Linked DNA regions of Homo sapiens: regions 2 and 3 are each linked to region 1. The links come from fine-mapping of genetic effects on gene expression. A gene starts in region 1. Each other region holds a variant in brackets. All regions are shown on one strand. Distances are between the middles of the regions.

What was found. PIP is the estimated chance that this variant, and not a neighbour inherited with it, causes the effect.
Region 2: its variant is the best candidate, but not a certain one, in a credible set for the expression of TPPP in whole blood (TOPMed, PIP 0.51).
Region 3: its variant is the best candidate, but not a certain one, in a credible set for the expression of TPPP in sun-exposed skin (GTEx, PIP 0.77).

The regions. Positions count from the first base shown.
Region 1 is chr5:689,882-697,881 of GRCh38, forward strand. TPPP (tubulin polymerization promoting protein) reads right to left here and starts at 3,471. Exons shown (of 4, transcript NM_007030.3): 1 at 3,397-3,471. LOC101929898 (a long non-coding RNA gene) reads left to right here and starts at 3,659. Exons shown (of 2, transcript XR_925675.4): 1 at 3,659-3,841; 2 at 4,200-8,000. RefSeq lists enhancers at 2,897-3,479, 4,393-5,271 and a silencer at 3,474-3,723.
Region 2 is chr5:845,744-853,743 of GRCh38, forward strand. It overlaps ZDHHC11 (zDHHC palmitoyltransferase 11), which reads right to left and starts at 5,243. Exons shown (of 13, transcript NM_024786.3): 1 at 4,638-5,243; 2 at 2,739-2,917; 3 at 1,771-1,872. The coding sequence starts at 4,859. RefSeq lists enhancers at 885-1,034, 3,935-4,586, 4,587-5,236. The variant C/G (reference allele first, on the strand shown) is at 3,747.
Region 3 is chr5:763,709-771,708 of GRCh38, forward strand. ZDHHC11B (zDHHC palmitoyltransferase 11B (putative)) reads right to left here. Exons shown (of 14, transcript NM_001351303.2): 2 at 5,127-5,222; 3 at 3,684-3,816; 4 at 2,990-3,211. The coding sequence starts at 3,211. It also overlaps the pseudogene BRD9P2. Among named protein-coding and RNA genes, the nearest start is that of ZDHHC11B, 17 kb to the right of the region's middle. The variant C/T (reference allele first, on the strand shown) is at 3,261.

The DNA.
Region 1 (8,000 bases):
GGGGGATCATCTGGGTGGAGGATCATCTGGGTGGGGGATCAACTGGGTGGGGGCTGCCCTGGGTGGGGGCTGCCCTGGGTGGAAGATCTTATCAGGGGGATGCAGTGGGTTATGGCCCTGTGGCAACCCCAAACACACACACACCAAGAAGAAGCTGGTCTCCCTAGGAGGAGGATCCACGCAGGGCAGCTTGGGGTTTGGCTCGTGGATGCTGGGGACAAGGCCTGAGCCCCAGATGTGGCTGGGCCTGACCCAGGCAGCTCCACCCCTTCCTTCCCAGGAAACACCTTTTGCTCGAGCAGTAGGAACTAGGCGTGTGTAGATTCTGCTGCCTGATCCTGGCTCCTGGCTGAGGGTTTGTGGGCTCAGATGGACTAGACACCCGGCCACAACCCTCCTGGGCATAGCCTTCTGGCTCCCCCAGCCCAGGCGGAGGCATTGAGCGACTCTCCTCACCCAGAGTGTTTTCCCGAAGGCGCTTCTGCCTGAGGGCACCAGGCTGGGCCAGGTACTGCAGGGCGCTGACCAGCACTGGCCTGGGGGCCCCAAGAGCCCCAGATGGCATCCCTCTCACACACTCCCCCTGTCTCACCAACAGCTATAAATAGACTCGGCTCTCTGCTGGCACGGCCTCTCCCGAGGAAGCTTTTAATTCTCTGCGTCCTCTGCAGGGGGTGGCTCCCACAGGCCTGGGAGGGAACAGACTGCCTGACTCTCCAGAGAGCTCCCCAGTCTCCATCTGCGATGGGTGATCCTAATTTTCTTCAGGAAGTTCTCCTGAGCCCTGCGTGTGGCGCTTTGGCCTTTGTGCCCACGGAAGCCCCCTGCGGCCCCTCCCTCCGGGCCCTGCCCAGCCCGGTGCACGAACCCTGTTTACCGATTCCCAGGCCTAGGGCAGCCACTGCCAGTGTGAGGCTTGCAAATTAGGGTAGGGGGTCAAAAGGAAGCCCCTGTTGACCATTTCTGTGAGCATTCTATGCTCATTTCCACAACGAGCATTTATAACCTCGTATAATCGCTAAAACATTTATTGCAACTTCAGGGAATTCGGGAAGATAGACCAACCGCAGCTGTAAGATTAAAACGCAGCCAGTGACCAGCGGAGCTTCCTCCACGCACACGCGGTCCAATCCCCATGACTTCATGTTTTGTGAAGATGCAAAGCGAGTTCATGCCGGCGCCTTTCTGAATCAGAGATCCGTTTAGAAACCATGAAAGCTGCAGACCCCTCCCGGGAAAACGCACACACCCTCCTGGAGCTCGCCTTCTGCAGCCGCTCCGGGAGCCCGCCCCTCCCCCACAGGCCCTCCGAGGATCACGTGGTGGGGAGGCGCTGGCACCGAGCGGCTGACAGGCGCGAGAGCCCAGTTCAAGGCGGCGGCATCAGGCTGCAGCTGCCTCACTCCCCTCCACTTCCTGCCCCTTCCCGGCCTTGGTCCAGCCCCATCTCCTAGTCCCAGGCCACAGGGAGCTGGGTCACCTCCCAGGGGCAGGGGCTGGCTGGGCGTGGGGGGAGACCTCTCCCCCTGAGAAGTCAGGCGGGGAGGGGTGGCCGGGGTGGGCGGAGGGGCCCAGTCCTCTATCGGTCCCCCAGGGGCCCTGCAAGCAGAAGAGCCAATAAACATGCCAGGTGGATCAGCGGTGACACTGAGAGGGAACGCAACACCCCATCAAAACAGCAGCCCCCCAACCCCCATCAAAACAATAGCCCCCAACCCCCATCAAAACAGCAGCCCCCAAACCCCATCAAAACAGCAGCCCCCAACCCCCATCAAAACAGCAGCCCCCAAATACCCATCAAAACAGCAGCCCCCCAAACCCCATCAAAACAATAGCCCCCAACCCCCATCAAAACAGCAGCCCCCAACCCCCATCAAAACAGCAGCCCCCAAATACCCATCAAAACAGCCCCCAACCCTCATCAAAACAGCAGCCCTCAACCCCCATCAAAACAGCAGCCCTCAACCCCCATCAAAACAGCAGCCCCCTAAACCCCCATCAAAACAGCAGCCCCCCAAACCCCCATCAAGACAACAGCCCCCCCAACCCGTATCAAAACAGCAGCCCCCAACCCCTCATCAAAACAGCAGCCCCCAGACCCCATCAAAACAGCAGCCCCCCAACCCCTATCAAAACAGCAGCCTCCCAACCCCTATCAAAACAGCAGCCCCCAACCCCCTATCAAAACAGCAGCCCCCCTAAGCCCCCATCAAGACAGCAGCCTCCCAACCCCACATCAAAACAGCAGCCCCCCAGACCCCATCAAAACAGCAGCCCCCAACCACCTATCAAAACAGCAGCCCCCAACCCCTATCAAAACAGCAGCCCCCCAACCCCCTATCAAAACAGTAGCCTCCCAACCACCTATCAAAACAGCAGCCTCCCAACCCCCTATCAAAACAGCAGCCCCCAAACCCCTATCAAAACTGCAGCTCCCAACCCCCTATCAAAACAGCAGTCCCCCAACCCTATCAAAACAGCAGCCCTCCAACCCCCTATCAAAACAGCAGCCCCCCAAACCCCTATCAAAACAGCAGCCCCCAACCCCGTATCAAAATAGCAGCCTCCCAACCCCTATCAAAACAGCAGCCCCCCAAACCCCCATCAAGACAACAGCCCCCCCAAAACCCTTATCAAAACAGCAGCCCCGCCACTGCCCGGGAGGGACAGGCTTCTCACCTCCCTCGGCTCCGTTTACGTAACCGAAACCGCAGAATAAAGGGCTCCTCAGATCTTCGGGCGCTGCTCCCAGGGGTGCGGGAAGGTGTCCCGGCAGCGCCTCTCCATCGCCACAGGCCCGCGGACAGTAGCCAAGACCCGGGGCAGCTGGAGGCTCTGCGGGGGGCGGTCTGACAGCCCCACCTGCCAGGACGCGGTGGTGTCAGGACCCTGAGATGGGCCGTTTCTGTGGCCAGGGATCTCTCAAAACCTGCTGCGGGCAGTGACTTCATTCCAGCCCTCCACGCCCTAATTTCCCACGCCTCACACCGGCGGCCCCCTAGGCCTGGGAATAGGGAAACGGTTCGAGTCCCGAGCTGGGGAGGGTCTGGAGGGAAGGGCTGCAGGGGCGTCCGTGGCCGCGAAGAAAGGCCAAAGCGCCAGGCACAGGGCCCGGAGACGGTGACAGACCTGTCCCTGGCGCGGCCGACGGTGACCCCCGCTCGCGGCCTTTGCAAAGCCTCCCCGTCGCGTCCTCGCACCGAGCCCGCAGCGCCGAACTCCGGGCATCCCAATCCGGGGGCTCAGGGACGCGCGGGGCGGTCCGGGAAGGGGGCTCGGGGGAGCGCGGGGGGCAGGGGCTGCGGCGCAGGTGGCTGCTGGGGCTGACGGGCCCAGTCTCCGCCCCCGGGTGCCCCCCGCGCCGCGCCCGCGGGACCGAGCCCCGCGCCCGCTTACCTTGGAGACGCAGCGACTGCAGCGGAGGCGCCTCCGCGACTCGGCCGCGCGCGACCCGGTGCTCAGCGGAGCTCTCCAGCCGCCGCCCCGCGCCCGCCCGTCCCGCCCAGCACCGCCCAGCCCCGCCCAGCCCGGTCCCGGGCCCGCCCCCGGCCCCCAGCGTCCGGCGCCCGCCCAGCGTCCCGCCCCGCGCGCTCATTGGCAGCCCCGCCCCCGCCGCCCCACCCGGCCCGGGGACGCGCGGGCGCACCGAGACCTCTGCCTTACAAGGCCGACTCTGCTCAGGCCCCGCGGACCGCCGGGTATCCGCTCAGCGCAGGGCGCGGCCGACCCGCGGGTCGTGGGAACCGCTGGGCAGGGGGCGGCGGGGCCCCTCACCTGGCTCTGGGGCCCCCCGGGGACGACCGGACCCCGATCTCTCCGCCCCGCAGGACGCGCGTTGACGGTGCGGCGGGGGATGGATGAGCGCGGCCGCGGCCTCCTGGGGTGGGGTGGGTTGGCGGCGGGGCCTCGAGGACGGTGCGGGGCGAGCCCCGACCGCGCCCAGTTCTTTAAGGAGCCGCAGACGGTGCAGGGAAGCGGCAGGGCCGGGCTGTGAGGGTGCTCGGACCCCAAGGCGGGGCGCACCCAGGGGACTGGGCTTCCAGGTGGGGGCAGCGCGGCCGGGGATCGACCTGAGCAGGGAGACGGGTCCGTGCCGGGCGCCCAGCGCAGCTGCTCGGGAGTGGGCCGCCCTTCACGCAGGAGTGGAGGAGCGGAGCGCGCACCCCTGACCCCGGCCTCAGCTTCCGTTCTCCCTGCAGGTCGCCCGTATGCAGCGCCACCATCCCGGCCGCTCTTCCAATCTCGCCTTTCTCCGGGCACCTGCCGCCCCTCCCCCGCTCCCCAGACAGGCTTTGCGGAGGGGGCTCATTCCGCCCGGGGCTGCCCGGCCCTCCGCAGGAGTTGGCTCCCCACAAGGTTCCGGGGCCGAGATGACAGGGCGGTTCTGTGGTGCTGGGTGCTGGGACTTGAGGGGCATAGGGGCACCTGCCCTGGAGGAGGCCGAGGCGCAGCCCCCCAGGAGGAAGGGGTGCCTCTGGTGACTTTCAGCTGGACTCTTCCAGCTGGACTCTAGTGCAGCTGAGCTCCTCCCCCAGCCCCGGCTCTGTCCCTGCACCAGGTGTCCAGCAGGCCCTGGAATCCGCAAAGGCAGAAGGGGAAGTTGGGGTGCTGGGTGCTGGGCAGGGGGTGCTGAGGCCTCACAGCCCGGCGGCTTGGCCCCCACCCACCCCACGGTGGTCCCGCGCCCCACACTTCCTCTCCTCTCCTGTGGTTTCTCCTTCCACTCAGTGCTGCCCAGAGATGGGCTTCTGTCTAGTTCTCCTGAGAAATTCCACACTCGCAGCTGGGAAGTCGGGGGACCCCCGAAGCTGTGCGGCGGCCACGCTGCGGCTCCTGCTTCCCTCCTGCTCGGGTGCGGGCTCGGCTGCCTTCTCGTCCCGCGGAGCCCGGAGTGCCTCCCCCTCGGGTAGATCCTACTAACAGCATCAAAGAAATAATGAAATAATCTCTCCTTGGTGTGTTCTTACCGTCCTAATAGGCACAAGGGGACTCTTCAGTGCATTTTCCAAAACCTGTACAAACTCTCTTGACATAAATGCAGTGAGTTTACAATAAAATCGCAGTGGGAGGTAACGTCAGGCTTCAGAGGCAGACATGGTCCTGGAGCCTTTGGGAGGAGAGGAGAGGAGAGGCAGCGGGCGCGGGGCGGCGTCCAGGGGGCTGAGCGAGGTCTGGGCAGGAGGACAGAGCTGAGCCTTGGGCTGCCCTGGCCCCTGCGCAGGACACACAGTGACCGGGGCTGGGGTGGGCACCCCGGTTCTACCGTCGGGAGTCGGCGTGTTCATGGAGTCTGTTTCCTTGTCTGTGGGTGAAACTTTGGCTTGGGGTCACGGGTGTGTTATTTCCCAGCGACAGTCGGTTCAGTCAGCACTTACAAAATCACCAGAAACAGGGGCACAGGATCTTGCTCAGCAGGGAGAGGTGGATCCTGATTCGGGACTCCAGGCTCTTCACCTGGCCATGGCTGCCCGTCCGGTGGCCCTTCCTGGCCCCCAGCTCTTGCTCCACTGCCAGACCTGGACAGCCTCCATTAACCCTGCAATTACTGAAAACCGACTCACAGCCAATGATGTGATCCACGCCAAGTGTCCCGTTATAAGATGTTTCCTGGGGATCCTTAGAAAATCACTACAAATGGGTTGAACAACAGGGCTTTCCTCTTACGGCTTAGGAGGCCAGAAGTCCGAGATCAAGGCCTGTGCGCTCCGGAGGTTCCCACCTCTTCCAGCTTCTGTGGCTCCAGGCGGTCCTGGGTGGTGGCCGCATGGCTCCACCTCTGCCCCTGTCCTCACGGGGCCTCCTCCCCCGAGTTAGTGTGTCTGTCTCTTCCTTTGCTTATCGGGACACCTGTCACTGGATTTAAGGGCCGCCAGGAGAAGCTGGGATAATCTCAAGATCTTTAATCGAATTACATCTACAAAGATCCTATTTTAACGTAAGGTCTTACTCTGAGGTTCCGGGTCAATGTGACTTTCTTGGGTGGGGGTCACTACCACCCCAGCACCAATGCTTTTCCCAGCTCCACCTGTGTTACCGTGTCAGTGACCAGGAGCGTTCCCCGGGACACCTGCCTGCTTGTAGCTGTTTCCACGGCTTCCTGCACAGGTTCTGCGTCCGCAGTTGGGAGCACCAGGCCAGGCAGCTGTCACATAGGAGGAGGACAGCTCTCCGGGACAAGCCCCTGCTGCCTGGCACCCGCGCCCACCCCTGCCTGGGTTTGGGGTTGGGTTTTGTGGGTAGAGGTTCAGGCTGACAGTGGAGGTTGGGAAGAGCAGACACAGCATGGTGGGTAGCACTGGAAGCCCTGGGTGGAAGGGATGGTGGGAGATGCTGGGCCATCTGGGTCTGCAGTGGGAGACCAGGACAGGAGCCCAGGTCCATTGGGAGGCCCCATGCTGAAGACAGAGGCACGGGGAGCGGGGGGAGCAATGGACTCACGCGGACAGCAGCAGACATGAAAAGGCCTCCGAGGCCAAGTGTGAGGATGCCGGGTCCCAGCACTGAGGTGTCCTGCAGCTGGACCTGTCAGGTGTCCACCCACCCCTGGCAGCTGAATGTCCTTTGACGGCCTATAGGCTGAGCAGCTTCTTTGGGCCCCGTAGGGGTGTGTCCCACAGCAGGTGAGCAGTCAGGGCCCCTTGAGAACCCTAACCAGCTCCTGTGTGGGCCCTGGGCTGGGGACAAGCTACAGCCTAGGTGCATGAGGTCAGAGGGGGTGGTCAGTGAAGTAACGACGTGCCTGCCTGGGTGTGGGGCCTGGGAAGCCTCATGGGGGTGTTGAAGCAGCTCCCATGGGTCCTTGGCAGCTTAGGGAAAATGTCTGCCGGGATGTGTGTGTGCACCTGTGTGTGAGAGTGTGAGAGTGTGCACATGCATGCGTGTGTTTGTGCATTCCTATGTGTGAATGTGCACCTGTATGTGTGAGTATGCATGCCGGTGTATGTATGTTGGTATGTGTTCAGCTGTGTATGTTCAGCTGTGTGTGTGTCTATTTGTGTGTCTCTGTGTGTATGAGTGTGTCTGCGTGTGCCTGTGTCTCTGTGTGTGCATGTGTGTTTGCACCTGTATGTCCACGTGCCTGTGTCTGTGTGTTTGCATGTGTGTGCATGTGTCTGTGTGCCTGCGTGTGCCTGTGTGTGCATGGGCCTGTGTGTCTTTGTGTGCATGTGTGTGTGTTTGCACCTGTGTGTGTGCACGTGCCTGTGTGTGTTTGGGCTGTGATTGCATCTGGTTATTCTGGGGGTGGAATTGCTGTGGAACATGGAATTAAAGTGCAGGTTCCGGGTCTTGCTGCCAGGGAGCGACTCTGGCCCCCCTATCACACACCTGTGACCCAGAGAACGGCAGGTGAGCCTTGCGGCTTCACTGTTGCCACAGGTCAGGGGCTGATGAGGAGGGGAAGCCAAATGGGGGGTGTTCAGCCCTAGGCTGAGCTGCTTGGAGCACATTCTTAATACGCCAGCCATCGCTACCTCAGTTCCACAGCCGATGTTAGGGAAGAAAGATGCGGGGACACGGCAACAGGACAGCGTGCTGGGAAGAAAAGATGTGGACAGGAGCCCATGCCTGGCAGAGACACGGAGGACCAGAGAGAGGATGGCGTTGCAGAGCGGAGGGCCGCAGAGAAGGGAGGAACTTGTGTCTGCAGTGGAGAGGACACACCCCTCTGGCAAGGGCAGCCCTGGGTGTGGCTTTCAGAGGCAGTGGGCAATGAGCTCTGTAAAGCCGAGATGGCTCCAAGCAGACCACAAGGAGCCTGGTCAGCTTCTGTCCCTGTAACTGTTTTCCCCACTGCCAGAAGTGGCTTCACTTGTTGTGTGGATGCCCTGCACTCAGCCCAGGACTAGATGGATTCACAGCCAGATTCTACCAAACATATGAAGAACTAATACCAATCCTTCTGAAACTATTCCAAGAAATCGAAGAGGGGGGATATCTCTCTAACTCATTCTATGAGGCCAGTATCACCCTCGGACCAAAACCAGACAAAGGCGCAACAA
Region 2 (8,000 bases), 160 kb after region 1:
TGGCGGATGAAGGGACAGAAGCGAGGTTGGCACAGATGCCGGCGTTGGCTGCTGCCTGGAGCTGAGGGCGCCCATGACCCCGGCCCTGCTCTCCTGATGCCCCTTTCCCACACCCAGGCGGTGTCTACACTTGGCACCCACGTGGTCCCTCTCCAGCACCCCTCCTGAGGAAGGCAGACCCTCTCCTTGCCACCTGCCTGTGGGCCCTCACCCCCTCACCTTCCCCACCAGGACCCGCCAGATTGAGCCAGCTCGAGGCACCAGAGCAGAATGAGTCCAGAAGGAAGTGGCACCTGGGGCTAGCATGAGCCAGAGGAGCTGGCCCCACCTTGGCCATCGTGGAGCTGCTCTTCTCCAGGGGAGGAGGCCGGTGGGTCTCCCCGGCCCCTACCATCTCACGCAGCCTCTGGACTCGCTGTGCGGTCATGCAACCTCTCTGTCCCTGCCGGGCTGCTCAGCCTCTCTGGACACATGCTGTGCTCCAGACGGGATGGCAGGGAGGCAGGGCAGGGACCGCCCGGTGCGTCCTGTGACACCAGGCAACGTTGGTCCCCACTCCCACGCACACCAAGGCCTCTTTCAGGTCAGCACAGAGTAGCTGGGGAGCAGGCGTGGTTCTTTTCCCTGGTGATCTTCACAATACAGTGCTGCAGACAGCCGGGGCTCAGCACACGGGGCCTTGAGAGTCCCTGGATCCTCCACTGTGCTCAGGGGAAACACCTCTCATCTATGAGCCTCCACCGTGCTCAGGGGAAACAACCTCTCGTTCTTGAGCCTCCACCGTGCTCAGGGGAAACACGTCTCATCTGTGAGTCTCCACCGTGCTCAGGGGAAACACCTCTCGTTCTTGCACCTCCACCATCCTCAGTGGAAACACCTCTCATCCTTGCGCCTCCACCGTGCTCAGGGGAAATACCTCTCGCCTGTGAGCCTCCACCATGCTCAGGGGAAACACCTCTCGTCCTTGAGCCTCCACCATGCTCAGGGGAAACACCTCTCGTTCTTGAGCCTCCACCGTGCTCAGGGGAAACACCTCTCGTCTATGAGCCTCCACCGTGCTCAGGGGAAACACGTCTCATCTGTGAGCCTCCACCGTGCTCAGGGGAAACACCTCTCGTTCTTGCACCTCCACCATCCTCAGTGGAAACACCTCTCATCCTTGCGCCTCCACCGTGCTCAGGGGAAAGACCTCTCGCCTGTGAGCCTCCACCATGCTCAGTGGAAACACCTCTCATCTGTAAGCCTCCACCGTGCTCAGGGAAACATCTCTCTTCCTTGCATCTCCACCGTGCTCAGGGGAAACACCTCTCGTCTATGAGCCTCCACCGTGCTCAGGGAAACACCTCTCATCTGTGAGCCTCGACCATGCTCAGGGGAAACACCTCTCGCCCATCTGCGCTGGGTGCCCACTGCCCTTCCGTGGCCCCACCCTTGTGCTGGATGAGCCTCAGCCTGGGTGGAGAGAAGGCAGCCCAGCCCAGGACAGCGTGGTCAGGAGGCCTCAGCCAGCGTGGCCCCGCAAGTGCCCCCGGGGGGCCTCCAGGGACTTACTCTATGCGGATGAGCTTGTCCAGGGACGGCTGCACCACAGCCCCAGAGCCAGACAGGAGGCCGGGGCACGCAGGCACCAAGCGCCACCACATCAGGACAGGGACGCGGCCCCAAGAGGACCCTCCACCCTTTCAACACGATGACCCCTGCCCACAGACCCCTCCCTTCCAAATTCCCCCAAGCCTGGCCCGTGCCGGCCATCCCCTCTGTGCCCCTCACCAATAATTCCGGCTTCCCACGCAGTTGTTGATCCATTTGCAGTGGTGGTCGAAGCCGGACACACACTTATTGCAGGAAATGCAGTGTTTGGTTTTCTTGTTCCTGGAGGGATGAATCGGGGAACGCCTGTCAGGCCCCAAGTGCGCAGGTTGGGGCAGGGCCAGAGGTCCATCACTGGAAGCCAGGTGCCTCGGAGGAACCAGCCCTGTGCGGCCTGGGGAGAGGGCGTCCAGCAGGGAATGGGAGGCTGGGGGAGGGTGTTGAGGCCTGTGGGGAGGAGGAGAAGCAGGGCAGCTGTGGGCAGAGGTAGCCACAGAGCAGGAGGAGCTGTGTCTTTGGCCGCCCTGAGCATAGACCCCCCGCCAGCCGTCCTACACCAGCCTCACTCTGGGCCATGGCCCTGGAGGAGGCCGCGCCTGCCCCATGGTTCCAGGAGTTGAGGCCGGGGGCTTGGATCCCACCTGTGCCTACAGGGCCTCCCTTGCAGCTGACAACAGCCCTGTAGCCAACCCCTAGGCCATCACAGAGGCCTCCAGGGCCCCTGGAGACACTGGAACCCTTACCTCCCACTTTCCTAGGGGCTTGTCTTGAAACTCCCCAAGAAAGACAGTGCTCTCTTGCCCTGGGCCCTCAGGGGAGGGACCTCGTGCACAAAATCCACTGAGGACCAAACATGCCTGAGTGCTGCTGTGTTTCATTCCAGGGGAGCAGCGGGTCACCTGCAGGTGACAGACCCAGCCCTCCAGTCTCAGCCCTGCCTGCGGAGGAGTTGGGGCGGCCCGGCACCGCGCCCGGTTCACAGCGAGATGAGGGGCGATCCACCCGCAGCCACAGGGCCGGGCCCTGGAAGCTCCACTAGCATCAGCTGCGGCCATGGCACGGGCCCTGAGGGGCCAGCAGTGACCTGAGCACCAGGACCCTGGAGGTGACCCTGACACCTTGGGGCCTCGGCGAGGGCGGGCACTCACACGGTGACCTTGCACAGGTGGCAGAACTGATTCTGGATCACGTGTGCATGTTTTGATCTGTCGAAGAGGGGCATGGGCTGAGAATAGTTCTTCATGAGTCTGACATTGGAGTCGGCCGGGTCGATGCAGGACGCGATCAGGTGGACGACGAGGTGGAACGAGAAGATCCCCCCGGTCACCTGGCATGTCAAGGAAGAACCTGGCCCAGGGCCTGGTCAGCCTGGCACGAGGCGTCCCCGTGAGGCCCAAGGGCCCAGAAGAGGCGTGGCCGCTGGTCAGCCCTGCTCACCCAGCCCTGCACACGTGAGCCCAGCTCACCCAGGCCTGGCCCTGCTCACACAGCCCTGCACACCCAGCCCTGCACAACTGAGCCCTGTTCGCCTGGCCCTGCTCACCTGGGCGTGCTCACCTGGGCCTGCACACCCAGCCCTGCACAGCCAGCCCTGCACAGCCAGCCCTGCACACCCAGCCCTGCTCACCCGAGCCCAGCTCACCCATGCCCGGCCCTGCTCACATGGCCCTGCTCATCCAGTCTTGCACACACGGCCCTATACACCCGGCCCTTCACACATGGCCCTGCACACACAGCCCTGCTCACCCAGATCTAGAGGAGATGAGTCCACCCGTCGGCCCTGCACACACAGCCCTGCTTACCCAGGCCTAGAGAAGATGAGGCTACCCATTGGCCCTGCATACACAGCCCTGTGCCAGTCGGGGACCGGGAAGGCTGCCCCCGTGCCCCTTTTGGTTCATCCCTGTTGGACACAGGGCAAATCCCCCACAGAATGTACCGCACCCCCAGAGGCTCAGTCAGCCCAGCCAAGCACAGTGACCCCAAAACCCTTTACAGCTTGAGGGACAGAGCAGGGCCACAGGAGGGACATCCCAGGTATAAACACAGCCGGATGCAGCCCCAAAGGCCCTGGAGGAGCCTGGGTTCTTTCATACCAGAGACCCCTGAGCACTGGGAGAGAAGACAGCCTCAGACAGGAGGAGCAGGGGGAGGAG[C/G]GAGGGAGCTGCACAACCTACCCGCTCCCTGTAGACCCCAGACAGCTCACTCAGGGACCCTCTCCCCGAGAATAGCTCAGGGAAACCCCCCTCAGACTCCCTCAGGGCCCCTCCGGACTCTCTCGGGGACTCCAGACTCTCTCGAGGACCCCAGACTCACTCAGGGACCCTGGGCCTCTTTCTTGGGCCCTCTGGGCTCAGAGCCTGGCTGCGGGGGCACTGGGGAGAGGATCCTTGTCCCCTGGAGCCAGGAGAAGCTGGGCTCCCCGTGCCTGGGACGTCAGCTCCCGCCCTCAGATCCTGGCTCCCTCCTCCTCTCACCCTGGGACAAACACAGACTCTCCATGGCAACCAAATAGAAGGGGTGGAGTGCGGGGCCCTCCAGTCACCCTGCCTGGCCCCTGGACCGCCTTCTAGCCAGGAGTTCAGGGTTGACAGCCATCTCCGCAGGGCAGCCCAGAGGCCCTCGCAGTGTGGCCTAAGCTTGGCATGGAAACGCAGGCTGCCGACCTGCGGGGCATGGCGCTGTTCCTCCTTGGCACCAGGGGCAAGGAGAAAGGTGCTGGCCATGTGCAAAATGCTGCGCAGGGATTTTAGCGGAAGGCTGCCAGCAGGGCGGGTCCTGCGCCACGCCAGGGGGCTGCTGTCCCTCCTGACAGATTCCCTCTCCGGAGCCCCCTCAGCCAACGCTGTCCTGTCCTGACCCTAAGCAGGGGCTGCACAGAGCATGAGTGGCCACTGGGCCCACCTGCAGGCTCAGGGGACATAGTCTGGCCCAGGGCAGGTGACTGGTGCCACCGGGCAGCCATGGCCCAGACCCCACAGCCAGGTCCATCGCAAGTTCCTCCAGGAACCCCTCCCGCTTAGACCATGCCACGATGAAAAGGATACCACGTAGGCAATGTATTTCCACGCGTGAGGCAGGAAGGGAATGAAGATCCCGAAGGTGGCCGAGGAAAGGCCCACGAAGACAGCCCAGGTCACCACCTGGAAGTAGTGCAGGGGTAACGACCAGCCGTTCACTCTGGAGATGCGGGGCGGCAAGACCAGCTTTTCATTATTGAGTATGGCTTCTGGGGTGACGGAACACTGGCTCCCGGAGCGGGTGTCCATCTGCAGGACACAGAAGGGGAGGACCTGCGCCGTCAGATCCTGGGAGGGCCGGCCCCGCCCACTGTCACAGAGACCAAGGGGACTGGGAATGCAGCCGCCAGGACCAGCACTGACAGCCAATGGCCCAGCACTGCCTGGGGCCACGTTCCCCGCAGAGGGAGCAGGGGCTGGGCTGGAGTCGGTGCAGGGCCCCGCCCAGGGGAATGAACAGACATGCTGCAGAATGTGACCCCGGCCAGAGCCGAGTGGCAACGGAAAACGGCTCTCCAGGGTGTGGAGGACCCAGTGCCCGCGCGACCGCCCATCAGTTCCCCTGAGGATTTGTTACGTTCTGGGGAGTGCTCGACAGCCCCCACACAGCGACAGGTCCCACAACCCGTTCACGAATACACAGGCCCACCCAGGACTCCCCAGGTGCAAGAAGAAAACCCACGTCAGAAAGAGGCCACACTGAGCAGAGGGCTGCGCCTGTGAGAAACTGAGGCAATGCCTGAAGAGCTCGTGAGCCGTTACTCACTGGTGCAACACTGAAACCTGCCAGATCCTCCCTGAGAGGCTTCTCTGAGCTTCCCAGAGGAGCAGGACCCGAGAGCTCACTTCACAGGGTCCTGTGTGTCTCCCCTTCCACAGGACAGGGAAGCCCGTCCAGCCACGCGGGGCTGGGGTCTCCGCCCGGGTGGACAGTGGCTGGGAGGTTCTGAACACGCTGCGGCTGCTCCTGGCCAGTCAGGTGGGGAGGGCGGCAGGGGTGGGAGGGACGTGGTGTCACAGAGCGGCAGTGAAAGACACTCAACGGCCGCTACGGGGTGGGGGGTTGATCTTGAGGGGCTGGGCGGTCTCTACAGAGGAGGGTTAGGAAGCTTCGCCACGTTATGCCTCGCTCAAAGTCCTTGTTGTCTCTTTGGGAAAAAACCTTCAGAAAATGAAGTTGATATTAAATGTATTTCTTTGAGAAGAGAGACATTGAGAAATAGTTAACAATTCTTCGTTCTTGCAGTCGTGAACGTCCATGATACAGTGGCTCTGCGCTGCCTTTGGTGGCTCCTCCCTGGTCCTCTAAATGTGACACCAGGCGGATGCGGGGCCACAGGACCCTGGGGCTTGAGTCACACAAGAATGTCTCTGGGAGACCCGAGAGACTCACAGTTATGAAACAGGACCATGGTTCTTTGGCCGGGCGCGGGGGCTCACGCCTGTAATCCCAGCACTGTGGGAAGCCGAGGCGTGCCTATCACCTGAGGTCAGGAGTTCCAGACCAGCCTGGGCAACACGGCGAAACCCTGTCTCTACTAAAAATACAAAGATTAGCAGGGCATGGTGGCACATGCCTCTAATCCCAGCTACTCGGGAGGCTGAGGCATGAGAATCGTTTGAACCTGGGAGGTCGAGGCTGCAGTGAGCCAAGATTGCACCACTGCATTCCAGCCTGGGCAACAGAGGGAGACTCCATCTCAAAAAAAAAAAAAAGAAAGAAAGAAAAGTCAAAGTTACCAAGGAAGGAAATAGAAACACAGAAAGACAACCCTGTACATTAAAAACACAATTCCCAGTTAAAAACAAAACCCAAATGAAAGTGCCAACAAACAGAAATGATGTCGCCAAGTCACATTGGTAAAACCTGGAATATCAAATCCAGGAAGGACCACAGATCTTAGAGAGGAGAAGAGGGGAATCGCTCAGCGGCCTTGAGCCTTGAGCCTGGAGACAACACGTTCATCTGTCAGGATTTCAGAACAGAAAGGTGGAGAGTCTGTGAGAGAAAAAAGAAAACACTGAAGAACTTTGAGAAGACTGAAGACTTCAGGTCGAAACTGTGCACCAAGAGCTGGAAAGGATGATTGGAAAAAGTAATACATCCAAATTAGAGAAAATGTGAGCAAGCCAGGGAGACAGACCCCACAGAGGACAACGAGCAGCGGGGACAGACTCCACAGAGGACAGTGAGCCAGGGGGACAGACCCCACGGAGGACAATGAGCAGCGGGGACAGACGCCACGGAGGACAGTAAGCTGGAGGTACAGACTCCACAGAGGACAGTGAGCAAGGGGGACAGACCCCACGGAGGACAGCGAGCCGGGGGGACAGACCACACGGAGGACAGCGAGCAGCGGGGACAGACCCCACAGAGGACAGCAAACCGGGGGACAGACCCCATGGAGGACAGCGAGCCGGGGGAAGAGACCCCACGGAGGACAGCAAGCAGCGGGGACAGACCCCACGGAGGACAGCGAGCCGGGGGTACAGACCACACGGAGGACAGCGAGCAGCGGGGACAGACCCCACGGAGGACAGTGAGCAGCGGGGACAGACCCCGCGGAGGACAGCGAGCCGAGGGGACAGACCCCACGCAGGACAGCAAGCAGCAGGGAAAGACCCCACGGAGGACAGCGAGCCAGGGGGACAGACCCCATGGAGGACAGCGAGCAGCGGGCACAGACCCCACGGAGGACAGCGAGCCAGGTGGACAGACCCCATGGAGGACAGCGAGCCAGGGGACACAGGCCCCACGGAGGACAATTAGCAGCGGGGACAGACCCCACGGAGGACAGCGAGCCAGGGAGACAGACCCCACAGAGGACAGCGAGCCAGGGGGCAGAGACTCCACAGAGGACAGCGAGCCGGGGGGCACGGACCCCACGGAGGACAGTGAGCAGCGGGCACAGACCCCACAGAGGACAGTGAGCAGCAGGGATAGACCCCACCGAGGACAGCGAGTCGGGCACAGACCCCGCAGAGGACAGCGAGTCGGGGGTACAGACCCCACGGAGGACAGCGAGCCAGGGGGACAGACCCCACAGAGGACAGTGAGCAGCGGGGACAGACCCCACAGAGGACAGTGAGCCAGGGGGCACAGACCCCACAGAGGACAGCGAGCGAGGAGCACAGACCCCACAGAGGACAGCGAGCTGGGGAGACAGATCCCACAGAGGACAGTGAGCAGCGGGGACAGACCCCACAGAGGACAGCAAGCCCGGGGGACAGACCCCACAGTGGACAGCAAGCCACGGGGACAGACCCCACAGAGGACAGCAAGCCAGGGGGACAGACCCCACAGAGGACAGCGAGCCACGGGGACAGACCCCATGTAGGACAGTGAGCCAGGGAGACAGACCCCACAGAGGACAGTGAGCTGGGGAGACA
Region 3 (8,000 bases), 74 kb after region 1:
GCCACATGGATAAGAACGAATACAGGATGTTAAGAAATGGCTATATAATTTTTAAGTGAGATATTTTTAAGTGAGATAAAGCATGGTGTTATAAAAATAAAAGTTTGTTAGACACAAACTGGAGCATTTACAGGTGAAATTTCCCGATGTCCGAGATTTTTAAAGGTTACTCGGATACACATGCATGTGAGATATAAAACAAGGTTAGCAAAAGCTTCACTGTTGAAGCAGGTGACTGGCACCTGCGGGTCCGCTTGACTGTACTCTCTACCTCTATAAACTGAAAGACGCCACAGGAACAAGTTTCAGGAAAGAGAGACATGGCCTTGCCCATGGCTGAGGCACTCAGGCTGGCAGGCTGCTGTCCTCATGGCACCTGCTCACTCTGCATCCAGCCCCTACACCTCCCTGCCTGCACCACAGCGATACACACCACGCTCACCATTTACCAGAGACTTGCCCGGGATGGCCCAGCCCAAGGACCACGCAGTGGTGTTGAGAGGTGACAGCACGCTGGCAGCCCTGGCAGCCCTCGCTCACTCTCGGCACCTCCTCGGCCTCGGTGCCCACTCTGGCCACACTCGAGGGGCCCTTCAGCCCACTGCTGCACTGTGGGAGTCCCTCTCTGGGCTGGCCGAGGCCAGAGCCGGCTCCCTCGGCTTGTGGGGAGGTATGAAGGGAGAGGCACAGGCGGGAACCCAGCACTAGTTCGGGGTGGGCATGGGCTCAGCGGGCCCTGCACTCAGAGCAGCCGGCCGGCACTGCCGGCCCCGGGCAGTGAGGGGCTTAGCACCTAGGCCAGCAGCTGTGGAGGGTGCGCCAGGTCCCCCAGGAGTGCTGGTCTGCTGTAGCTGTGCTCAATTCTCACTGGGCCTCAGCTGCCTCCCTGCGGGGCAGGGCTCAGGACCTGCAGCCCGCCATGCCTGAGCCTCCCCGCTGCCATGGGCTCCTGCGCAGCCCGAGCCTCCCCAGTGAGCACCGTCCCCTGCTCTGCGGCACCCGGTCCCATCCACCACCCAAGGGCTGAGGAGTGCGGGCACATGGCACGGGACTGGCAGGCAGCTCCACCTGCCCCCGGTGTGGGAGCCACTAGGTGAAGCCAGCTGGGCTCCTGAGTCTAGTGGGGACTTGGAGAACCTTTATGTCTAGCTAAGGGACTGTAAATACACCAATCAGCACCCTATGTCTAGCTCGAAGTTTGTAAATGCACCAATCAGCACTCTGTATCTAGCTAATCTGGTGGGGACTTGGAGAACCTTTATGTCTAGCTAAGGGACTGTAAATACACCAATCAGCACCCTATGTCTAGCTCGAAGTTTGTAAATGCACCAATCAGCACTCTGTATCTAGCTAATCTGGTGGGGACTTGGAGAACCTTTATGTCTAGCTAAGGGACTGTAAATACACCAATCAGCACCCTATGTCTAGCTCGAAGTTTGTAAATGCACCAATCAGCACTCTGTATCTAGCTAATCTGGTGGGGACTTGGAGAATCTTTATGTCTAGCTAAGGGATTGTAAATACACCAATCAGCACCCTATGTCTAGCTCGAGGTTTGTAAATGCACCAATCAGCACTCTGTATCTAGCTAATCTGGTGGGGACTTGGAGAATCTTTATGTCTAGCTAAGGGATTGTAAATACACCAATCAGCACTCTGTGTCTAGCTCAAGGTTTGTAAATGCACCAATCAGTGCTCTGTGGGGACTTGGAGAACTTTTGTGTCTAGCTTAGGGGTTGTAAACACACCAATCAGCACCCTGTCAAAACGGACCAATCAGCTCTCTGTAAAACAGACCAATCAGCTCTCTGTAAAATGAACCAATCAGCAGGATGTGGGTGGGGCCAGATAAGGGAATAAAAGCAGGCTGCTCAAGCCAGTAGCAGCAAACTGCTTGGGTTCTCTTCCACATTGTGGAAGTTTTGTTCTTTTGCTCTTTGCAATACATCTTGCTGCTGCTCACTCTTTGGCTCCGCACTGCCTTTATGAGCTCTAACACTCGCAGTGAAGGTCTGCAGCTTCATTCCTGAACCAGGGATACCCCAAACCACCAGAAGGAAGAAATTCTGAACACATCCAAACATCAGAAGGAACAAACTCCAGACACGCCGCCTTTAAGAACTGTAACACTCACCGCGAGGGTCTGCGGCTTCATTCTTGAAGTTGGTGAGACCAAGAACCCACCAGTTCCGGACACAGTGTCACCACTTCCCCACTGAGGAAGGCTCTAGTGAGAAATAACACATCCTACTTTCAGAAATATGGTTCCAGTGCCCCAAGGCACCGAACGCAGGCCAACTGTTCCCCAGGCCCCTTTGTCCCCACACATCCATGTCTCAGTGACCCTAGGGGGCCTGGGGTTTCTCAACTGAATGCCATGGTCAGCTGGAGGTAGTGCAGAGCCCACATGCCCCATGGACATGCACCCTGGGAGATGCGAGCAGACACAGGCTCCCACCCGCTGGAAGATGATGGGAGCAGACATGAGTCCCCGCCTGATGGGAGGTGAGAGCAGATGCAGGTCCCCTACCCACTGGGAGACAGGAGCAGACACGGGCTTCCCCCTCTTTGGGAGACGGGAGCAGACCCGGGACCCCTGCCGCTGGAAGATGGGAGCAGAACCAGGTCCCCCACCTGCTGGGAGATGGGAGCAGACGGCCTGACATGGGGTCAGCGGCTGCCCTGTCCAACCTGACCCTGAGCCATGTGGGAGCGGTCTGACATAGGGTCAGTGGCTGCTCTGTCCACCCGACGATGGGCCACGCAGGAATGGCCTGATGTGGGGTCAGCAGCTGTCCTGACCCTGAGCAGGGGCTGCACAGAGCACGAATGGCCACTGGGCCCACCTGCAGGCTCGGGGGACATAGTCTGGCCCAGGACAGGTGACTGGTGCCACCGGGCAGCCATGGCCCAGACCCCACAGCCAGGTCCATCGCAGGGTCCTCCAGGAACCCCTCCCGCTTAGACCATGCCACGATGAAAAGGATACCACATAGGCGATGTATTTCCACGAGTGAGGCAGGAGGGGAATGAAGATCCTGAAGGTGGCCAAGGAAAGGCCAACGAAGACAGCCCAAGTCACCACCCGGAAGTAGTGCAGGGGTAACGACCAGCCGTTCACTCTGGAGATGCGGGGCGGCAAGACCAGCTCTTCATTGTTGCGTATGGCTTCTGGGGTGACGGAACACTGGCTCCCGGAGCGGGTGTCCATCTGCAGGACACAGAAGGGGAGGACCTGCGCCATCAGCTCCGGGGAGGGC[C/T]GGCCCCACCCACTGTCAGGGAGACCACGGGGACTGGGAACATGGCCCCCAGGACCAGCACTGACAGCCAATGGCCCAGCATTGCCTGGGGCCACGTTCCCCGCAGAGGGAGCAGGGGTTGGGCTGGAGTCGGTGCAGGGCCCTGTCCAGGGGAATGAACAGACATGCTGCAGAATCTGACCCTGGCCAGAGCCGAGTGGCAACAGAAAATGGCTCTCCAGGGTGTGGAGGACCCTGGGCAGAGGACCTGGCCTGTGGCAGACCTGGGTGGATGACTGAAAGCAACGGGAAGACCTGAGCTGCCATCTGGACGGCTGCGGGATGGCCCTCTCCCCACCCACACACATGTGGGGCTCCGGGTCCCACACCAGGGCGCAGCTGAAGCTGGACAGCAGCCAAGGGCTCCCCGGGGCCAACACCTGCCTCGGCGCACACTGCACGCCTGTCTCATCTCCGTAGGCTGAGTAGAGCAGCTCCAACTCGTCCGACTTCAAGTCGCCAAATGCTGAATTATTCTGCATCGAAAGCGCAGTAGTGGCACTGGAGAGAAAGGTGACTGGGAGGAAGAGGAGAAAGAGAGCATCACTGGACTCACTGGAAGGACTCGGTGTGCAGGCCCCACCCCGCTTCTCCAGGGGCTGAGGGACCGCCTGGCTGGCAGCCAGCACCCCAGTCTCACCTCTCTTGCTCTCCACAAAATTCTCACTCCTGAGTTTTCCATGTGTAACCAGCAGGGGTGTAATTCACCACCCCTCATTTTACTTCTGCAGGCCAAAGACCGCAGGGAAATGAGCTCTCTGCAAAGGGGTGAGCTCCACAAGCAAAAGAGCTGTGTGGAAACGTGGGCAGAGCGCACCGTCTGTCACTGTGGAGGATCCCAACCAACACACACCGCAGGGACCACGCCTGCCCAGGGCCAGCTCTCGCTGTGGGGGACACAGGCCAGGTGTACTGTGCAGTGTCCCATAGGGTGTGGAGCAGCACCCCTGGCATCTCCCTACCATCTGGTGCCAGCAGCACCCCCAACCCCAGTGGGACCATCAACACGCCTCTGGACACTGCCAACATCTCCAGGGACAAAAGTGCTGTGGTTGAGAACTGTGTTAGAGGGTGAGAAGAAGATGTGTGTCAAACACAACAAAAAAAAAGTATCAACAACCACAACAGCCCCAAGAGGAAGAGGGGAGCAGGGGCTGGTGAAGACAAGTGGTGAAGGCAAGAGGATCCTTCCCAGTGGAGGGCGTCCTTCAACAGGAGACCCAGACCAGGCAGAATTTCAACACCTGGAGCTGGAGGAAAGAACATTCCAGAAACAAGGAAGCTCTTGAGCCAAGGCCATGGTTTGGAGGGAAGAGTGAGCTGTCCCATTAGCAGATGGTGTGAGTGGCTGAGGCAGAAAGGGCCGGCAGGAGCAGTGTCCATGCAGCTGTCTGCATGGGAGGGACCCAGCAGAGGTGGAGAAGTGGAGGGTGGGGCCATGCAGGAGGTCCCAGCAGCAGCGCAGCCAGGAGGCAGCAGTGCAGATGGAGAGAACACACAGGCCAGACCCAAGGCCCAGGGGCCACACATTCTGACCCCTGAAGGGATGTTCTGTAATGCGACAGGGACAGAAACACAAGGACCCCAAAACACTGACCAAGGTGAAGTCCAGTGATGCAACCAAGGTGCCCGCTGTGTGTGTCCCCATCCAACACGAGTTTCATTCCTGTCACTGTAACTGATCTCAATCTTACCCATGTGAAAACATGAATCCAGGTACAGTGAGGAAACTCTGAAGTACGAATCAGCAGCATTTGCCATCACTCCACTAAACCCCTGCCACCTTCCCTGCTCCGGCTGGCTCCTGGGACGGGACTATGGATTTACCTTTGTTTCTTCTCTCGTCTTTGAAGCCCAGCGTGGTGAAGCCTGGGAGTAGCTTACTGGAGAGCGAGCTCAAGTCCACCGGGTGGGTCTCCTCCTCTGCAACACGGACATGGCGGGCCGTGAGTGGCAGGTGTGACCCCAACGCGGTGCCCCAGTGCAGTGCCATGAGCCCTTTCTCCACATCACAGTGGATGTGATTGGTGCGGGTGGGGGGATTTTATAATGATCACCTGAAAACAAATTTGCAAAAGCCAACTACCATTCTCAAAACTAACTGCATTTCAATTTCATTTCTTTATCACCCCAAAGTCAACACAATAAAAAATACCACATCTTTGGCCACCACACCAGCAATACTTTGAGAACATTTTCAAATGGATCACTCAACAACTCCAAGAAGAAATCTTGTCCTGCGTGTTCTAACAGCGAAACGGTGGCGTGTACCTGGAGCGCGTGCATCTGACAGCATGTCTGCCATGCTCAAGTCACCACCCACACACCACTCATGGGATCAGAGCAGGAGTTCCTCAGTTCCCAACCGCTGCCTCGGTCTCAACACTCTCATAAGCTAAATATGGATCAACGGTCCATCCTCTTTAGGAAAATAAGCTGAAGATTATATAGATCAGCCCGTTTCTATCCTTCACACACTGGAGAAAACCACGCTGGCATGGTGGAGCTGGGTGAAAGACCACCAGCAGGCATGCGGGTGAGAGCGAGGGAAGCAGGAATCTAGAGGCAACCCGTGCCAGGCTGCACGTTCCTCACGCGAGCCCGCGAGTGCGTTTCAAACCCAAGTGATCACACTTTCGTTCAAAGGACAAGCCTCTTAATTACTTCCAGGCCAACAAAGTGCCCCTGACGGGCTGGACAGGCCTAGTGCGCGCCATCCTTCAACACTGTCCTGGACATAATCATCTAACAGCTCTTCTTTTTCTAAGACTGCTTTCCAGATTCAAGGAGCAGGGTGGGCCAGCACTCTGGTCTTTGCTGAAGACTGAGCTCGGGATGTGAACCCTTCCTGATGCTAGTGAGGTTTGGCCTTAAAGGCCTCTCGGCAGCTTTTCAGGAACGTGGCTCGAGTCCCGCTGCTCCCAAGGAGCCCTGACCGAGGTCTGACCAGCACCACAGCCCCGCGAGACGGCCGTCCACACCACTCGGTGCACATGTCCTCCAACTCCAGCGACAGCTTCTTGGCTGCCCAGTCCTTCGAGGGGTCCCCCGGGGACTTGGGGGGCGTCCTGTTGGCAGCTTTGGCAGGCTTGGCCTTGTCAGCCATGTTGCTATGGAGGAAGGAGAGGAGAAAGGTGTCACCCGGGCCATGTCCCAGCTGAGCCGGGTGCAGCCCAGGAAACCCCGCCATACCAATGAGCACCAGGACGTGGCGAGGGCTGAGATGGGCAGGCCCTCCTGGGGCTGGGCGTGAGGCCCCTCAGACCCTTGGAGCCAGCTGCCCCGCAGGCACGCATGTCCAGCCCCGGGCAGAGTGGAGCCAAGCGAGGCCTTGCCCACTGCCATCATTGGGCCAAGGACCCCCTAAGCCAAATAAAGCCAGCAGCACGCAGAGCCCAGGGTGGGAGCTGAGCTGGGTGCCAGGGGCTCCAGGCCTAGGAGGCTCAGTGTGTGACTGGCAGCATCAGAGCCTATTCCGGGTCCCCTCCCCGCCGCAGTTCCACTGTCCCTCCTGTGGACGCCCGCTCTGCAGCTCTGGAGGACACCTCGGGATCACGCACTCCCCAGGGTCTGTGACGTGCTGCCTTCCTCTGGGAAGGTCCACAGCAGTCGTGCGACAGCCGCTCCCTCCCCACTGCAGAGCCTCTGACCTTAGATGGAGCTTTAGGCTGGGGAGGGTGTGTGGTGGCCCTGGGGGTGCCTCAGGATGCTCTTCCCAGGAGCCCTGGGCCTGGCCCCAGCCAGGGGAGGGGACTGCCAGTGTGCAGGGCTGAGGCAGTGCTGGGGGCACCGGTGTCAGGGTGCAGGGATGCCCTCTGGACTTGGTAAGGCGCCCGCCCCCAGAGCAGGTGGCTGGGCTGTGGGGCTAAGATTGAGGGGTGCCACCCAGGCAGGGCTTGGGGACGCAGGGCTACGCCACAGGGCAGGGCTGCCGAGGCCACCTCCCTACCATGCATGGGCTTCGGTAAGACCCAGTCAGGCCCTGAAGGACTCAAGGCTGAGGTGCTGGACTCAGGGCATGAAAGCTGCTTCCCAAAGGGGCCTGGACACCAGGTGGGCCGTCAGCACTGCACTGAGAGCTGAACATGGCCTCTGCCCACAGACACAAGAGCCGGTGGGAGGGTCCGTGCCGAGGACACATGTGCGTGTCCCAACCCTGGGACTCACGAAGCCCTCTCAGATCTGGAGTTCTCAGCGCCAGTCATGGCCAAAGTGTGGCTCTGTCATCGTGGGGGTCCTGAGTGTGGCCCCTGCTGAACTTGAGATCCCACAAATTCCCCCAAAACAGCCGGAAAAAAATCCAGGGGCACTCCCTACACTGAAGACCTTAAGGGCCTCAGGCCCCACCCACTCACCCCTTTCCCTGGAAGACACCAAAAATGCAGATGCCAACCCAGCGGAGGATGCAGGGGCAGGATCCTGGTGGGGGCTGGGCCGCATGGGGGCAGGGTCTCATGGGGGCAGGACCGCGTGGGGGCAGGATCCTGGTGGGGGCAGGATCCTGGGGGTGGAAGGGCCGTCTGGGGGCAGGATCCTGGGGGTGGAAAGGCTGGGTCAGGTGTCGAGCCAGGAACCGTTTCCAGTTTTATCGCTGACAACATTTCTTTGAAACAGGAGCTTCTCACAGGCCTGGCCTGTGTTTCCCCTGGGCCTCTGCAGCAGGGGTCGCTGGACAGGAGGAGCAGCTGAGAAATTACCAGA